Regions from separate parts of the Homo sapiens genome. Here region 2 is linked to region 1. The links come from fine-mapping of genetic effects on gene expression. Tissue or cell type: whole blood. Region 1 holds a variant in brackets; the other region holds the start of a gene. All regions are shown on one strand. Distances are between the middles of the regions.

Evidence for each region. PIP is the estimated chance that this variant, and not a neighbour inherited with it, causes the effect.
Region 2: it holds the start of HILPDA, and the variant in region 1 is fine-mapped to the expression of HILPDA in whole blood (TOPMed, PIP 0.94).

What each region holds. Positions count from the first base shown.
Region 1 is chr7:128,496,585-128,504,779 of GRCh38, reverse strand. METTL2B (methyltransferase 2B, tRNA N3-cytidine) reads right to left here. Exons shown (of 9, transcript NM_018396.3): 7 at 6,638-6,744; 8 at 3,812-3,877; 9 at 1-3,018. The coding sequence ends at 2,864. Among named protein-coding and RNA genes, the nearest start is that of METTL2B, 24 kb to the right of the region's middle. The variant A/C (reference allele first, on the strand shown) is at 4,228.
Region 2 is chr7:128,451,595-128,459,769 of GRCh38, reverse strand. HILPDA (hypoxia inducible lipid droplet associated) reads right to left here and starts at 3,892. Exons shown (of 2, transcript NM_013332.4): 1 at 3,747-3,892; 2 at 1,352-2,569. The coding sequence starts at 2,501. The coding sequence ends at 2,310. It also overlaps the pseudogene EFCAB3P1. RefSeq lists enhancers at 101-395, 4,080-4,249, 5,158-5,864 and a silencer at 3,840-3,979.

The DNA.
Region 1 (8,195 bases):
CAGGCTGGTCTCGAACTCCTGACCTCAAATGATCCGCCCACCTCGGCCTCCCAAAGTGCTGGGATTACAGGCGTGAGCCACTGCACCCGGCCTATGTTTAACATTTTTTAAAAAGTCAGGGTCTTGGCCGGGCGTGGTGGCTCACGCCTGTAATCCCAGCACTTTGGGAGGCTGAGGCGGGCAGATCACCTGAGGTCGGGAGTTCGAGATCAGCCTGACCAACATGGAGAAACCTTGTCTCTACTAAAAATACAAAAAATTTAGCTGGGAATGGTGCTGCATGCCTGTAATTCCAGCTACTTGGGAGGCTGAGGCAGGAGAATCACTTAAACTTGGGAGGTGGAGATTGCAGTGAGCCGAGATCGTGCCATTGTACTCCAGCCTGGGCAACAAGAGCGAAACTCCATCTCAAAAAAAAAAAAAAAAAAAGTCAGGGTCTTGCTACATTACCCAGCCTGGTCTTGAACTCCTGGCCTCAAGTCATCCTCCTGCCTTGGGCTCCCAAAATGCTAAGATTACAGGAGCCACTGTGCCCAGCCAACATAATCATGTTTTTGTGTGACAAAGCTATTATTGGGACTACTGGGTAAACATGAATGGTTAGTGGCTGGCATTAATGTTTCCATGTATTCCTACTTGTGATGGATATATTTGGTAATATATTTGCTGATGTTGGGACATCAGAAAAAAATGGACTATTCTTGCAGTATTCCTATATAAATTTATTATTCCAAAATTTAGAAAAACATCAACAAGGTGAAAGCTAGGCATCTTTGTTTTTGAGATGCAGTTTCGCTCTTGTCGCCCAGGCTGGAGTGCAATGGCACCATCTCAGCTCACTGCAACCTCCGCCTCCCAGGTTCAAGCAATTCTCCTACCTCAGCCTCCTGAGTAGCTGGGATTACAGGCGCCCACAACCATGCCGGGCTGATTTTTTATTTTTTAGTGGAGACGGGGTTTCACTATGTTAGCCGGGCTGGACTGGAACTCCTGACCTCAAGTGATCTGCCCACCTCAGCCTCCCAAAGTGCTGGGATTATAGGCGTGAGCCGCCATGCCTGGTCGAAAAGTCCTTACTTTCTAAAATTAAGGATATATCCTATAACTGCATGGATCAAGACAGAAATATGTAAAAATAATTGAAAAAATGCAGAACATAAAAAAAAAGGATCTAACAATTAGCTAGGCATGATGGTGCCCACCTGCAGTCCTAGCTACTCAGGAGGCTGAGGTGGAGCGATGGCTCAAGCCAGAAGTTCGAGGTGATAATGAGCTATCATTGCACCACTGAACTCCAGCCTGGGCAACAAAGTGAGAGCCCTGTCTCCTAAAAAAAAAAAAAAAAAGCATCTAACACTGACAGTGATCACATTCAGAAGTGAAGTGATGATGTGGTTAAAATTAAGAAGTTCTCTCAATTCCTTTTGTGTCAAACACTTAAGGGTGCAGTAAAAAAAGATAATTTTGCAAAAAGTGAAAATTCTTTTCTTTTATTTTTTTGAGACAGAGTCTTCCTCTGTTGCCCAGGCTGGAATGCAGTGACATGATCTCGGCTCACTGCAACCTCTGCCTCCCAGGTTCAAACGATTCTCCTGCCTTAGCCTCCCGAGTAGCTGGGACTACAGGGGACTACAGGCGCATGCCACCATGCCCAGCTATTTTTTTTGGTATTTTTAGTGGAGACGAGGTTTCACCGTGTTAGCCAGGATGGTCTCGATCTCCTGACCTCGTGATCCACCTGCCTCAGCCTCCCAAAGTGTTGGGATTACAGGCATGAGCTACCGCACCCAGCCAAATTCTTTTAATTCTTTAGACATAGGTTAGAGGGGGAACAGTGCTTAAAATTCCATGGAACTAAGATTTTTTTTATTTTTATTTTTTTGAGACAGAGTCTTGCTTTGTTGCCCAGGCTGGAGTACAGTGGCGCAATCTCAGCTCACTGCAACCTCTGCCTCCTGGGTTCAAGTGATTCTCCTGCCTCAGCCTCCCGAGTAGCTGGATTACAGGCACCCACCAACACACCCAGCTAATTTTTTTATCTTTAGTAGAGACGGGGTTTCACCATGTTGGCCACGCTGGTCTCGAACTCCTGACCTCAGGTGATCTGCCCGCCTCGGCCTCCCAAAGTGCTGGGATTACAGGTGTGAGCCACCGTGCCTGGCGGAACTAAGATTAAAGCAAAGACCACGATCAATTACTTAACAAGAACACCACATTTTGATGCTGTCTACAGGGTCATTTTTTTCTTGTCAGGAAAATATCTGATCTGATTCTTCCCAGCTTGCTTCCCCTACAACTTAATAAGCCCTTCACTAACCCCTGTATGTATTAACTGCAATTGCCTAGCCCGGCATTTACACTCTCAAAAGATTTAACGCAATTACAATCAAAAAACACTTGTCATATATAACACTTTTTCACATGGAAATAAATGGTGGTTTAAGGTTTACAATTCCTTTGAATAAAATTTCAGTTATTAGTTACAAAATGCTAAGACAGATTGAGGTCTCAAAGAAAGAACTTGAGAAAATTATGTTTTAAAGGACTTCACAAATATGAAGCATAATTGTTAGAATCCTGATACAAAGTAACTTTTCCTAGGTTTAAGGTTCAAGTCTGAATTCTTGAATTGTCCAGCATCAACGAGACCTCATTTATATTCTTTTTATTTTATCATTACTTTCAGATTCAGGGTCTCTCGCTATTTTGCCCAGGCTGGACTCCTGGGCTCAATGGATCCTCCCTGCCTCAGCCTCCTGAGTGGCTGGGATTACAGGCATGCACCATGCCCGGTGCTACAAATTTTTTTTTAAAAAAGCTCGGAAACACAACGGGCTTGCATCGTGTTGGCAGCAGGTGCCTCTTAGCTGGTGCTGGACAGAAGGGGCTTGCAGTATTTGCACTGAATCCAAACCCGGTACATTGTCAGTTGCTTCCCTCGGTTCACCTGCAGTCGGCGGTCCACCAGATTCTGAACTTTTTCCAGTCCAGCAGTGGTGAAAAGCGTGTCCAGTTCCTCTAGTGTGGAAAATAAAAGATGTTTATGCATTTTCCCCTCAAGAAAAGGCATTTTTATCTACTAAGTCCTTGTTAAATGGGGCTCTGGGAAGTTGCTGTCGTGTTTTTTACATGGCCATTTGGTTATAAATGCAGTGGTGGCTTGGTAACAACAAGTTCATGTTTAGGTAGGGGAAGCCACTGTGTATAGGCCGCGGTTTTTTCTTTTTTAAAAACCTTTGGTTTATATTTGGCCTTTAGGCTCTATGAACACCTTAAAATTTATGCAAAACTATCTACGTATGTCAAAGCAATTGCTTTAGGAAAGAGGTTTCATCATCTTAACCAAAGGCTCAAAGAAGGTGACCCTAAAAAGGGCCCAGGAACAGAAGGCCCAAGTGAAGGATGAAGCCTGTGGATGGGCCAGTTGCAGAGGAGAGCAGTTCCCGGCACCCCTAGAACCCAGGGTTCACCCTGACCCAGGCACACCAAAGCACAACCCCGTGTAGAGGGTGAGACAGGCTGGACTGGAGGTGAGCCTTGCAGAGTGGGCAGGCTTCCCATTTTGGACAGTGGCAGACAGGGAGAGCAGAGCAGGACTGAAGGCATGGACAAGCCAGGGCTGCCTGGGGGCCCGAGTGGCTGGCTGCCATGGGTAGCCTAGCCCAGGGTGGAAGAGGGTGTGAGCAGCGGGGAACCGAAGGAAACAGCCTGCCTAAAAGGCAGGAGGGGCCAGATAGTTTTCCTTCTGAATGTGCCTTGAAGACCATCTGGTACTGGGGACTTTTAGCGTAAAAAGATGAGTGTTTCATACCTTGTGTGAAGAAGTAAACTCTGGTTCCATCACCTCTCACATAGAAATTTCCAGATAGACACTGACCTGCAGAGTGATGTATTAAAAATCAGAGACACTTTAAAGTGTCTCTTTGACTTGCACTGCTAAGGAATGTTAACTGAGAGGCCAGTTTGTTGGGTGGAGAGCACTCCTGCCTCAGTGCTTCGGGAAGAGCAGCTCAACGGGAGTAAGTCACAATGTCAGAAAACATGAGGTTCCTAAGCACCCCACTCCAAAACTCTAGAATTATTTGATGAAAACAACTTGTTCACTCTCCCAACCCTATTAAACTAACAGCACAAACTTTTTATTTATTTATTTTTTTTGAGACAGAGTTTCGCTCTTGTTGCCTAGGCTGGGTGCAATGGCGTGACCTCAGATCACTGCAACCTCTG[A/C]CTCCCAGGTTCAAGTGATTCTCCTGCCTCAGCCTCCCAAGTAGCTGGGATTACAGGTTCCCACCACCACGCCCAGCTAATTTTTTGTATTTTTAGTAGAGACAAGGTTTCACCATGTTGGCTAGGCTGGTCTCAAACTCCTGACCTCAGGTGATCCACCCGCCTTGGCCTCCCAAAGTGCTGGGATTAAAGGCATGAGCCACCGTGCCTGGCCTATTTTTTTTCTTTAATTAAGCAATATAGCTGAGTTTAAGGAAACTTGAGACAACCATTACCATTTTGGTGGTGACTGTCCTTTGCATGTCTCTTCACGTGTCTACAGAATCATAAATACAACTCAGATACTGTTTTGATCATGAACATGCTTTCCCTTCTGCTGCTAACCTCCCTGACCTCATCTCAGTTTACCAGCCTGGCACATACTTCTAGACCTTCCCGAATGCCCAAATCATCACACGTGTATACTTATTTCCCTGCAGATACTGGTATACGGGGATGGAGTTTAAAATACTCCCTTGCACATTGCTCTCCTCTCACTGAATACACAACAGAAATCCCTCCAAGTTCAGTGGTATGGGGTCCACCTCAGGTGACAAGCACGACATCTCCCTATCCAGAGGCATTCACTTTGTTTACAAAGTTTTGCTCCTGCATGTATTATGTGCTAGTTCTTGACTATATTCAAAAAAAGACTGGACTGAACAATAATTGGGTACTTAAAAAAAGGCTGTAAGCTGGGAGCAGTGGCTCACGCCTGTAATCCCAGGACTTTGGGAGGCCGAGGTGGGTGGATCACCTGAGGTCAGGAGTTTGAGACCAGCCTGACCAACATGGTGAAACCCTGTCTCTACTAAAAATACAAAAAAATTAGCCAGGCGTGGTGGCACATGCCTGTAGTCTCGGCTACTCGGGAGGCTGAGGCAGGAGAATTGCTTGAACCCAAGAGACAGACGTTGCAGTGAGCCGAGATCGTGCCATTGCGCTTCAGCCTGGGAGACAGAGCGAGACTCCGTCTCAAAAAAAAAAAAAAAAAAAGGCTGTTAATACTGGGCACAGTGGCTCACACCTGTAATTCCAGCATTTTGGGAGGCCAAGGTGGGTGGACCCAGGAGGCAGAGGTTGCAGTGAGCCGAGATCGCGCCATTGCGCTCCAGCCTGGGCAACAAGGGCAAAACTCCATCTGAAAAAAAAAAGGCTGTAACAATTTCTTTTTCTACCAGTAATGAAGGAATGCACCTCTTTCTTTGAATTGGCCAGCAATAAGAAGTACTAACTTGTTATTTTTATTTCCTTGAAGTGTTGTTTACTGGCCATTTAGATACGTTCTTCTGTGAACTGACTAAACACTCTTCACCTGCTTTTTGGGTGGGTCACTGATCCTTATCAGTTTCATGACAGCTCCCTGAAGAGCAAAGATATTAAGTCTTCATCTATTATATGCACTGAAAATATTCCTTCTTACTCCGTCATTTGCCTTTTACATTTTTAATGGCATCTTTTGTCATGCCACATTTAAAATTATTTATGTCTTTCAGATGTCTTTTTTTTTTTTTTTGAGACAGAGTTTCACTCTTGTTGCCCAGGCTGGAGTGCAATGGTGCGATCTCGGCTCACTGCAAGCTCCGCCTCCTGGGTTCAAGCGATTCTCCTGCCTCAGCCTCCCGAGTAGCTGGGATTACAGGCATGTGCCACCATGCCCGGCTAATTTGTATTTTTAGTAGAGACAGGGTTTCTCCATGTTGGTCGGGCTGGTCTCGAACTCTTGACCTCAGGTGATCTGCCCGACTCGGCCTCCCAAAGTGTTGGAATTACAGGCATGAGCCACTGCGCCCGGCTGTCTTTCAAATGTCTTTCTAATAAAAGCTCTTCTAAAGGTAGCTGTCTTGCTTAAAAAGACCTCAATATCTAGATTATACAAGCCTCTTCAGTTTTCTTAAAAAATATACTACTCTGTCACATATTAAATGGCTTTATATAAGGAGTTCTAATTCTAGAGTTTCTATTCTGATGGCAGCACCATTTTTTGATTATAGTGGCCACATACCTTTTTTTTTTTTAAAATTATACTTTAAGTTCTGGGGTACATGTGCAGAACATACAGGTTTGATACATATGTATACACGTGCCATGGAGGTTTGCTGCACCTATCTACCCGTCATCTACATTAGGTATTTCTGCTAATGCTCTCCCTCTCCCAGCCCCCCCACCTCCAGACAGGCCCCAGTGTGTGATGCCCCCCACCCCGCGTCCATGTGTTCTCATTGTTCAACTCCCACTTATGAGTGAGAAAATATGGTGTTTGGTTTTCTGTTCTTGTGTTAGTTTGCTGAGAATGATGATTTCCAGCTTCATCCATGTCCCTGCAAAGGACATGATCTCTAGTGGTTAGGATTCAGCACTCTCAAAATACCTTTTTTAAACCGAAGCTGAGCCATGTCATAGCGGCCGTAATCTCGCAGAAGTACCATCCCCCCAGGTTTCAGAAGCCTGCTCAGCCTGTTGATAGCCTTCTGCATCCTGTGGAGACACAGGGAATTATAGTTAATCAGGTCTCCTTAAAGACAGGGTTCTCTTTCCCTGTAGCATATCCCAAAAAGCCAGTGGACTTCCTCAACTGACACACCAAGTCTGAGATCTAAGCTCCTCTACTCTTCAGTTAGAACTGAAGGACGTTAGCTGCCTGCTCACAGCTGTGGCCTCAATCCACTGCCTTCAGCCCGAAGAGGCCCAAGGACAGCCTGCTTCTGCCATAAGAAAGTTCTCTGCTCCCGGCCAGGTGCGGTGGCTCATGCTTGTAATACCACCATTTTGGGAGGCTGAGGCAGGCGGATCAAATGAGGTCAGGAGTTTGAGACCAGTCTGGCCAAAACGGTGAAACCCCGTCTCTACTGAAAATACAAAAAGTAGCCAGGCGTGGTGGCATGCGTCTATAATCCCAGACACTCAGGAGGCTGAGGCAGGAGAACTTCTGGAACCTGGGAGGTGGAGGTTGCAGTGAGCCAAGATTGCACCACTGCCCTCCGGCCTGGGCGGCAGAGTAACTGAGACTCCATCTCCAAAGAACAAACAAACAAACAACAGTTCTCTGCTCTCCATCTGGATCACTTCCCCACTGTCCTAGATAGCCATCTTTGCCCTGTGCTCCTGTGGCTAAGCCGAATCCTGAGCATCCAGTGGGTTCTGCTAGGGGACTTATCTGCCTGCACCATTAGACCTGAGCTCTTTCAATGTAGGGGCTGTATCTTTCTGTTTGCTAAATGAAGACTTGTCCTCAAGAACTTACAAGTTACATGGCAATACAATCAGTATGCAAATGAGTATAACAGACAGAGGGTTTTACACTTAGGTCTGCGCTTTCCATATGCAGTGTTCTTCAAAAGTCTTGGTGCAGGTTGAAGCTTTCATAACTTGAGAAGTCTAAATGCTACAAACTTCACCAAAAAAAATTTCAAAGTCTATTTAAATTTTGCATAATGAATGTTTCCCACTTAAAAAAAACAAAAAACAGAAAAATGGCTAAGGCAGGCAGATCACCTGAGATCAGGAGTTCGAGACCAGCCAGACCAACATGGTGAAACCCTGTCTCTACTAAAAATACAAAAAAATTAGCCAGGGATGGTGGCAGGCACCTGTAATCCCAGCTACTTGGGATGCTGAGGCAGGAGAATCGCTTGAACCCGGGAGGCAGAGATTGCAGTAAGCCAAGACCATAGCACACACTCCAGCCTGGGCAACAAGAGCGAAACTCTGTCTCAGAAAACAAACAAACAAACAAACAAACAAACAAACAAAGAAAAAGCAGCTGGGGTCCTGCTATGCTATGTTGCCCAGGCTGGACTCTTGGGCTCAAGTGATCCTCCTGCCTCAGTCTCCTAGGTAGCTGGGACTAAAAGTGTGTGCCACTGTGGCTGACTTGAATTTTAAATTTTAATAATTTGTTTTAGTCCATGTCAATTTTAAAAAAGTTT
Region 2 (8,175 bases), 45 kb after region 1:
CATACCCTAGAGAAAGCAACATGTCTAGAAGTCTCTCCCACATCACAGTCAGATTGGACAGATTAAGGGCCCTGCGCCATGCATCCTCATTCCAGGACCTACACTAATGAACAGTTCCATAGGAAGCACTGCTGGTCACTGCACAGAGGGAAAAAGAGGTCCTCGCAGGTTTCTCCAGCACTGAAATGCTCTCACGTAGAATTAACGCAAGCCACTACCACTCACAGCTCATTGGCCAGAACTAATGACATGGCTCCATCCAACCACAAGGGGGTGGTGGCACACAGATCACTTCAATTAAACTAAGCCACTTGGAGGAGAGACTTAAGGTGCAGGCTCTCCAATTGAAGGTTCAAAAATACCCCAAATTAGAAGCATGAGAATGAGAAAATATATCAAATATAAGAAATATGACTAGAAGAGGGTAACTACTGGCACATGAAACTGAAACCAGAGAAAAAGCCAAATAGACTTTTGAGAGTAGTACTATGCTAACAAAGTAACAGTCATATAAACCCTGCCAGCCACAAGGGGACCAATTTACCATGTACCCGAAAGGTGGGAAACTGGAAATACTTGATAAATAACACTAGTGACAACCACTGTGCAATAAATGAAAGTGATGCTTAACCCACAGGCTTCTAGGGTAGTGACATTTTAAGAACACTCAGGAAGCAAAACTGGCTTAACAGAAGACACTGTACTTCATTGTTGCGCTTTAGCAAAAGTCAGTCAAGTTAATAAAATGATGCACACGCCCAGATGGGAGTGTAAATAAATATATTCTGAAGGGCAAAGGAGTGAATACAATTGTACGTGGGACAGGAAGTACAAGAGTGATGGATACAAGAAAAAAAAACCCCTCCAACTTTTGAGTAAAGGCCAAGTTGCTTAGATCTGGGAGAGCAGATATAATCATCTGTGTGGTGTGGACACTTTACCAACTGACTTTGAGAACAATCTGAATTAAGCAGCCTTTTTGGTGGGTAAGTAAAACACGCTGAAGAGTACAAAAGAAAAAGCCCACAGCCTCCTGGACTGATAGTCCTCTTTGCCCCAGAGACTCAAGGAGAGGGGCTGGAAGTGGTGATCATTTTTCTTCTTCTTTACAGATCTAGTCATGACAGGCCTGCAATAATCGTGGCCTAGGCTCACATAACTGGTTGATACATGGCAGACCCAACTGCCTCTGCCCCCAAATTCAGAAGTCTACTGATACTATGTTTTAAACAAAGTGATTTAAGCACTTTCCTGCTCCAAAGTATTGAGATGTTAAAATTAAACCTCAGGTCTAGAAATTAAGACCCTCCCTACCACGAATTTCAAGAGCAGAAGTCAACATGACACACAGTAGAAATATATATTCCACTTTATTAGTTAGAAAAAATCATTTAAGCCACATGGTGGCCACAATGTCCATAACTTGAGCAGGCTTTGGCATCCCACCACCCCCTTCAGACCAATACACACTATGTTGGAGGAACGACTTTAAAATGTAAAATGAGAAATGGGCACTGAACACTCCATCCTCACTCCCAACAGCCCACCCACACAACCTCTTCAACTGCTATCCAAACATGGAGGAGCTCTTGTGGAAGAGAGGCTCAACACCAAATAATTGAGCATAAGACATTCAAGACTAAAGGAACCCCAGACAGATGTTTAGGAAGTAGGGTTGAAAATATCACCATCTCCCAACAGCTGAAGTTGGGACATCTAAGAGATGTCAGAGCCATACTGCTGAGGAAAGCACAGCATACACCAGACCCCGGGGTAAGGGCGAGATCAACCTATCTCATAGCCATAAGCAATCCACTCACACCTGTGCATTAAACAGGCTTTTTCTTTTCTTTTTTTTTTGAGATGGAGTCTTGCACTGTGGCCCAGGCTGGGTACAGCAGTGCGATCTCGGCTCACTGCAACCTCCGTCCCCGGGTTCAAGCAATTCTCCCGCCTCAGCCTCCCAAGGAGCTGGGATTACAGGCCTCTGCCACCACACCCAGCTAACTTTTGTATTTTTAGTAGAGATGGGGTTTCGCCATGTTGGCGAGGCTGGTCTCGAACTCCTGACCTCAGGTGATCCACCCACCTCAGCCTCCCAAAGTGCTAGGATTACAGGCATGAGCCACCGCAACCGGCCTAAACAGGCCTTGCCCAGGCAATGAGCATCCAGTTAGACAGGTTCTTCAAGGCCTAGTAATAGTTCTCTGGTTACAACGGTGCTCAGCTTGTCTGCTAGGAATGGGACTCCCATCTGGACATGTCTAGGTCAGTGTTCCAAAATATGGCCAGTATGGAAGGAGGTCTTATCACATGCTTCTGGATGGATGGTCTGGAAGGCCCTTGGTGGGCTCTGTGTTGGCTAGTTGGCTTCTGGTGGTCCAGGAGGTCCCAGGCGATGGGCTCTCTAGTAAGCCCTCTAGGGACTCCATCACTCTAACGAAGATGGAGAGTAGGGTCAGTACCACACCTAACAGGTAGAGGTTCAACACATGCTTCATGGCTGAAAGGACCCTACTCCTCTGCAGAGAAACAGAGCTGCCTTCTCCTTCTGAAAGGCCTCTGGACCCTGAGAAAAAAGAGGAAAGGATGAATCTATAGCCTTTTGGGGATATGCATGCATCCAGCCCTGACTCTTCTGTCCTCTCACAGGGCTGAAGGAGAGGCTTAGCCAGTGAGGGACACAGGGACCAGGGAGTTGCACAGCAACTCTCCAAGAATATTTTACATTGCAAACTTCATGGCTGCGGAGCCAGTGTTGCTTCTTGGACTAATTCAAGAACACTTCTTAAAACTTTTACTTTCTTAGGCCAGGCGCGGTGGCTCATACCTGTAATCCCAGCGCTCTGGGAGGCCGAGGCGGGTGGATCACCTGAGGTCAGGAATTCGAGACCAGCCTGACCAACATGGTGAAACCCTGTCTCTACTACAAATACAAAAATTAGCCGGGCATAGTGGCACATGCCTGTAATCCCAGCTACTCGGGAGGCTGAGGCAGAATTGCTTGAACCCGGGAGGCAGAGGTTGCAGTGAGCCAAGATCGCGCCATTGCACTCCAGCCTCGGCAACAAAAGCAAAACTCCGTCTCAAAAACAAACAAACAAACATTTACTTTATTGAAAATTTTGTTCCTGCAAGGCACAATACACAACCCCTGTGCTACAGTGCAGGCATCAGTCACCTTCCTGAAATAGGCCCAGTCCTTTTGCAGGGGGGTGGTGGGTAATGGGAAATATAAGAACATGCCCTGGAGAAAGGAACCTGCCTAGAAGTCTCTCCCACATCACAGATTGGAGTTAACTACAAACTTTTTGCAAGTCCAAATAACTCTATGAGGGTCAAATCTATCAAGTTCATTTATTTAACAAACATACCATGAATATCTGCAATGTGTTAGGTACCCTGGAAGATACTAGGGCCACATTGCAAACCTTATAGACAAAGGGTAGTTAACACGCAACACGCTAAGTGTTGGGACAGCAAGGAGATCGTGAAGGTGCTCTGGGAGGGCATGGCAGGGATGCCTAACTCAGCACCTGTGGGCGTGGGATGGGCCACGTGGATCCTAGTTAGGACCACCTTAGGACAAAACAGGGCTGACGGCTGAATGGGGACCCCAGATGGGGCGTGGGCGATCAGAGAGGATCCCGGCGGCGCACCCCCAGCCCTGGAACGCGAGGCTGCTAGCGCGGCGAGCACTCTAGCGATGGGGGTGGGGAGCCGGGGAAGCCCACAGGGCCGCTCACCTCCGGGGGAACAGCCGGGAGTGGATCGCCGGCTGTAGGAGCAGGTCGTGCAGGAGTCCGGAGGAAAGTCGGTTACTAAGCACCAGCGCAGAAGCTTCCCGCCACAAAACTCACCGGAGACAAAAGCGCCGTCAGCCGCAGAGCGCAGAGCAACGCCGCCCAGCCTCCGCCCCTTATAGCCGCGAGCACGCCCCAGGAGGGTACGCGCACGCGCACTGGAGGCCGCACGCACGCCCGGGACGCACACGACGTGGCGCACGTCCGCGGCCCCACCCCGCGGGCAACGGGGTTTGGGGATTGTCCCGGGTGCTCTCCCGCGGAGCTGTTTCCAAAAGTACACGTCGTGCGGTTTTGAGTCATTGTGTTCTGGAGTGAGACGAGGCGTGTGTATTAATCTCGACTGCCATCTCTGCTGTAGAAAACATTTGAAGGAGTCAGAGAGCACATATCCCTTCTCCCCAGTAGGTGAAAAACACCGATGGCCTTCGTGTCCGTGAAGCCCCGCCGTGAAGGGTGGGTTCTTCCCCAGAGATTTCGGGTGCACTAAATTGTCAGAGGGCACCAGACCCCTACCCCACTCGTTATTTTCTTCATTTCAAGGACTGAAGAGCTGGTTTTGTTTCACTTCATAGCTGTACCAAGATTCCAAATCCCGAGTTTCAGTTGCCATCGGTATCTCTGGAATGGTGAGGCCCTTGTGCAACATATTAAGCTCTGCAAGCTCTGCTTTCTATGAGAGTTTGTCGTGTCGCTTCAGAAAACGTGAAATACTCCTGGCCCTGGTGTGGGATCCTAACTGCATATGGGCAAGTCACTTGGTATTTAAATGGGCCTCGGTTTTCTCATCTGTAATGAAGACATTGGCCACTAGATGATTTTTCTTCTTCTTCTTCTTTTTTTTTTTTAAATAGAGACAGTCTCGCTATGTTGCCCAGGCTGGTCTCGAACTCCTGATCTCAAGCCATCCTCCCACCTCTGCCTCCCAAAGTGCTGGGGCTACAGGCGTGAGCCACCGCGCCCGGCCGCTAGATGATTTTTAAGGGTGCTTTCGGCTTGAACTAAAGAGCCAGGAGGTCACAGACCAGCCTTATGTCCAGATTTGGGGGGCTAGGCTGCCTTACTAATCACCCCCGAACCCACCCAGCCAAGACTGTGCGGTCTGTCTTGAGAGCACGCAACGGGGGATCTCAGAAAGTAGAGTCCCGGAGAGACACTGGGAATGGGGAGGACCCCCGGGAAGGGGTGTACACGCCGTGGAAGGGAAGGCCGCTGGTGGCTTTAGAACTGGCGGTTCCGTGTACCCGGGTCAAGTGCCCGTGCCGGATGGGAAAGAACCCTGTGACTTTCCACATCTCAGCGAGCTCGGCGGGCTCTGCTTAAGAAGGGCTCTAAGACGGGAAGGGAGGAGCCATCCCCACTGCGACCTTTCCCCTCCTTTCCTGGCTGGCTGGCTGTGGTCTGTCGGGAATGAGGGGGTGGGGAAGCCGGGAAAGCAGAAGGTTGGGGCTGGAGGTCTGCTGGCAGGCAGGCAGACATTTGGAGCCAACTTTCCTGCTCAGCCCGCAGAACTTTTGGTCCTTCGCTATACCAGAGTTTCGTCTGTTTTTTTGCTTGACTGTGTGACCCTTCTCTCACACTGTTATTAAATAGGTCTCAAGCTGCGAAATCACTGCCAGATCCAAACGCCACTACTTTGCCAGGTGAAGGCCTTGGGCGAACCCTTTAACCTTCTTGTAGTTCTGTTTCCTCAGCTGTTCTGTGAGATCATAACAGTCTTAACCTGATATTAAATGAATTAATCCATATAAAGCGCTTAGAACAATGCCTGGCACATAAAAAACATTCTATGAATCTTAACATTATCTGTATCATCAACTACAAAACTCCCAGTGAGGGGTTTTGCTCATTAGCAGCCTAGGCTTGCTGAATGAATGCAGGAATTCTACAATGACCATTTGAGTTCTACTTAGTTTGAGTTCTAAATTTATACTTCACACAGCTGGAAGAAGGGATGGGCACCTCTCCAACAATTCTTTCTCCCCATATTCCCTGCCATTGTCTAAAGGTCATGCCAGTTGGAAATAAGAAGGGTTTGGGTGAGGGCAGCTCTATGCTTTACCATTCTGTCAGCTACAAATGTAGCTACCTGCATCAGGATTTAGTCCTGCCTTCAACACCTTGGCCAGGCTAACTGACCCCTTTGAACTTTAGTTTCCTTATCTGTAAAATGAGGAAAATAATCTGTAAAACAGGGTTGTTGTGAGGGTTGGAAATAATGCCCATAAAGAGTATGTCATATATGCTCAACAAATAGTAGCTATTATTTTGCTAAAAAGTATAAAGCCAGATTCTTGTTCTAAATAAGCTTGTCACCTGGTTGAGTAAACAAGACCTGAATAAGATAAGATAACTAACAACCCAAGGCAGTGTGGGGTAGAGTTTAGAAGTAAGTACATAAGTAGGGTGGTAATGTTTTGCTTGGGGAACTGGGATTTTAACATTCACTATGGTTATTTAAAAAAAAAAAAAAAAAAGAGCTGGGCATGGTGGCTCACACCTGTAATCCCAGCACTTTGAGAGGCTGAGGCGGGCAGATCACCTGAGGTCAGGAGTTCGAGACCAGCCTGACCAACATGGACCAACATTCTCTACTAAAAATACAAAATTAGCCAGGCATGGTGGCGCATGCCTTTAATCCCAACTACTTGGGAGGCCGAGGCAGGAGAATCACCTGAACCTGGCAGGCAGAGGTTGCACTGAGCTGCGATCAGACCATTGCACTCCAGCCTGGGCAACAAGAGGGAAACTCCATCTCAAAAAAAAAAAAAAGAAGAAAGAAAGAGTGGAAACAAAATAAGCATTCTTCAAGTAACTGATACGTGCTGAACATTTTGCTAAATGCATTACATGTATTATTTAATTTTTCTAACGATGCTATGAGGTAGGTATTATTGCCTCTCTTCTTTATTTGTTGTTGTTGTTGAGAAAGGGTCTCACTTTGTTTTCCAGGCTGGAGTACAGTGGCACGATCACTGCTCACTGCAGCCTTGACTTTCTGGGCTCAAGCTATCCTACCACCTCAGCCTCCTAAGTAGCTGGGACTACAGTTACACACCACCACACCCAGCTAATTCTTTCTTTTTTCTTTCTTTGCCACCACCACACCAGCTAATTCTTTTCTTTTCTTTTCCTTTTCTTTCCTTTCTTTCTTTCTTTCTTTTTCTTTCTTTCTTTCTCTTTCTTTCTTTCTTTCTTTTTCTTTCTTTCTCCCTTTCTTCCCTTTCTTTCCTTTCTTTTCTTGCTTTTCTTTCTTTTTTTTTTGTAGAGATGGGGTCTCTCTATGCTGCCCTGACTGGTCTCAAACTCCTGACCTCAAGTGATCCACGTGCCTCAGCCTCACAAAGTGCTGGGATTACAGGTGTGAGCCACCATACCCAGCCTTCTTTATTTGTTAACTATGCTTTTTCTTCCAGAGGAAGAAGAGACTTTCTTCACCTAGTCTTTTACTCATCTTTCATATCTCAATTCAAACATATTTCCTCTGGTCACCCTTGCTGACCCTCGGACCCTGTTCCGGGCTCCAGTGGCATGATAGGCATTTCTTTCCCAGTGTGTTACTTTACCCTTAGTTGTATTAATGTCTGTGTCCTTTCAAAAGCCTGAAAATGTCAGTGAAAGGAGTGTTTGGTCTGATTTTGTTTCCATTCCATCTCCAGCAGCTAGCACCAAATAGTAGGCTTTTGATAAATATTTGTTGACTGAAGGAATAAATGAATGAATATTTTACCCAGCATCTTCAGTGAGTACCCATTGTTTCATCAAGGAAATGTAGATAAGGGCGCCAAGAGAAGCCGTTTTCAGGTGCTACCTCCTCCTTGGAGCTGCAACCAAGGAAAGCTTTTTATAAGCTGCCCTTCCCCCAAAGCCCCTAAAAAGAAGTGATTCTGAAGTCAACCCACACAAGAGTACCATACTAAGAACACAAGTATTTTCACAAATTTGATCTTATCATCAAGTGTTCATTTAAATAACATGTACTTACATTTCTGGTAAGTATAAACTGGTACATTCAGTATGGAAATCAATTTGTCAGTAATTGTTACCCTGACCCCCACTTGTTTTTTAAACACCTCAAGACCATTGAGGTGTTAAAAAAGACCACTGACTACCATTTGGCAATGTCTATAAAAATAAAAGCATACACATGCCCTTTAGCCCAGAATTCCACTTTTAGGATTTATCCTTCCACATGTAGAGAATGGAGTGTTTAAAGGTAGCACTGTTGCAGCACTGTTTGTGATAATGAAAGACTGGAAAAAACAGCCCATCAGTAGAGAACTGGTTAAATAAAAGATGGTGCATTCAGACAGTGAATTACCATAAAGCCAGAAAAAAGAGAGTAAGTTCTGTATATATCGACAAGATCTCC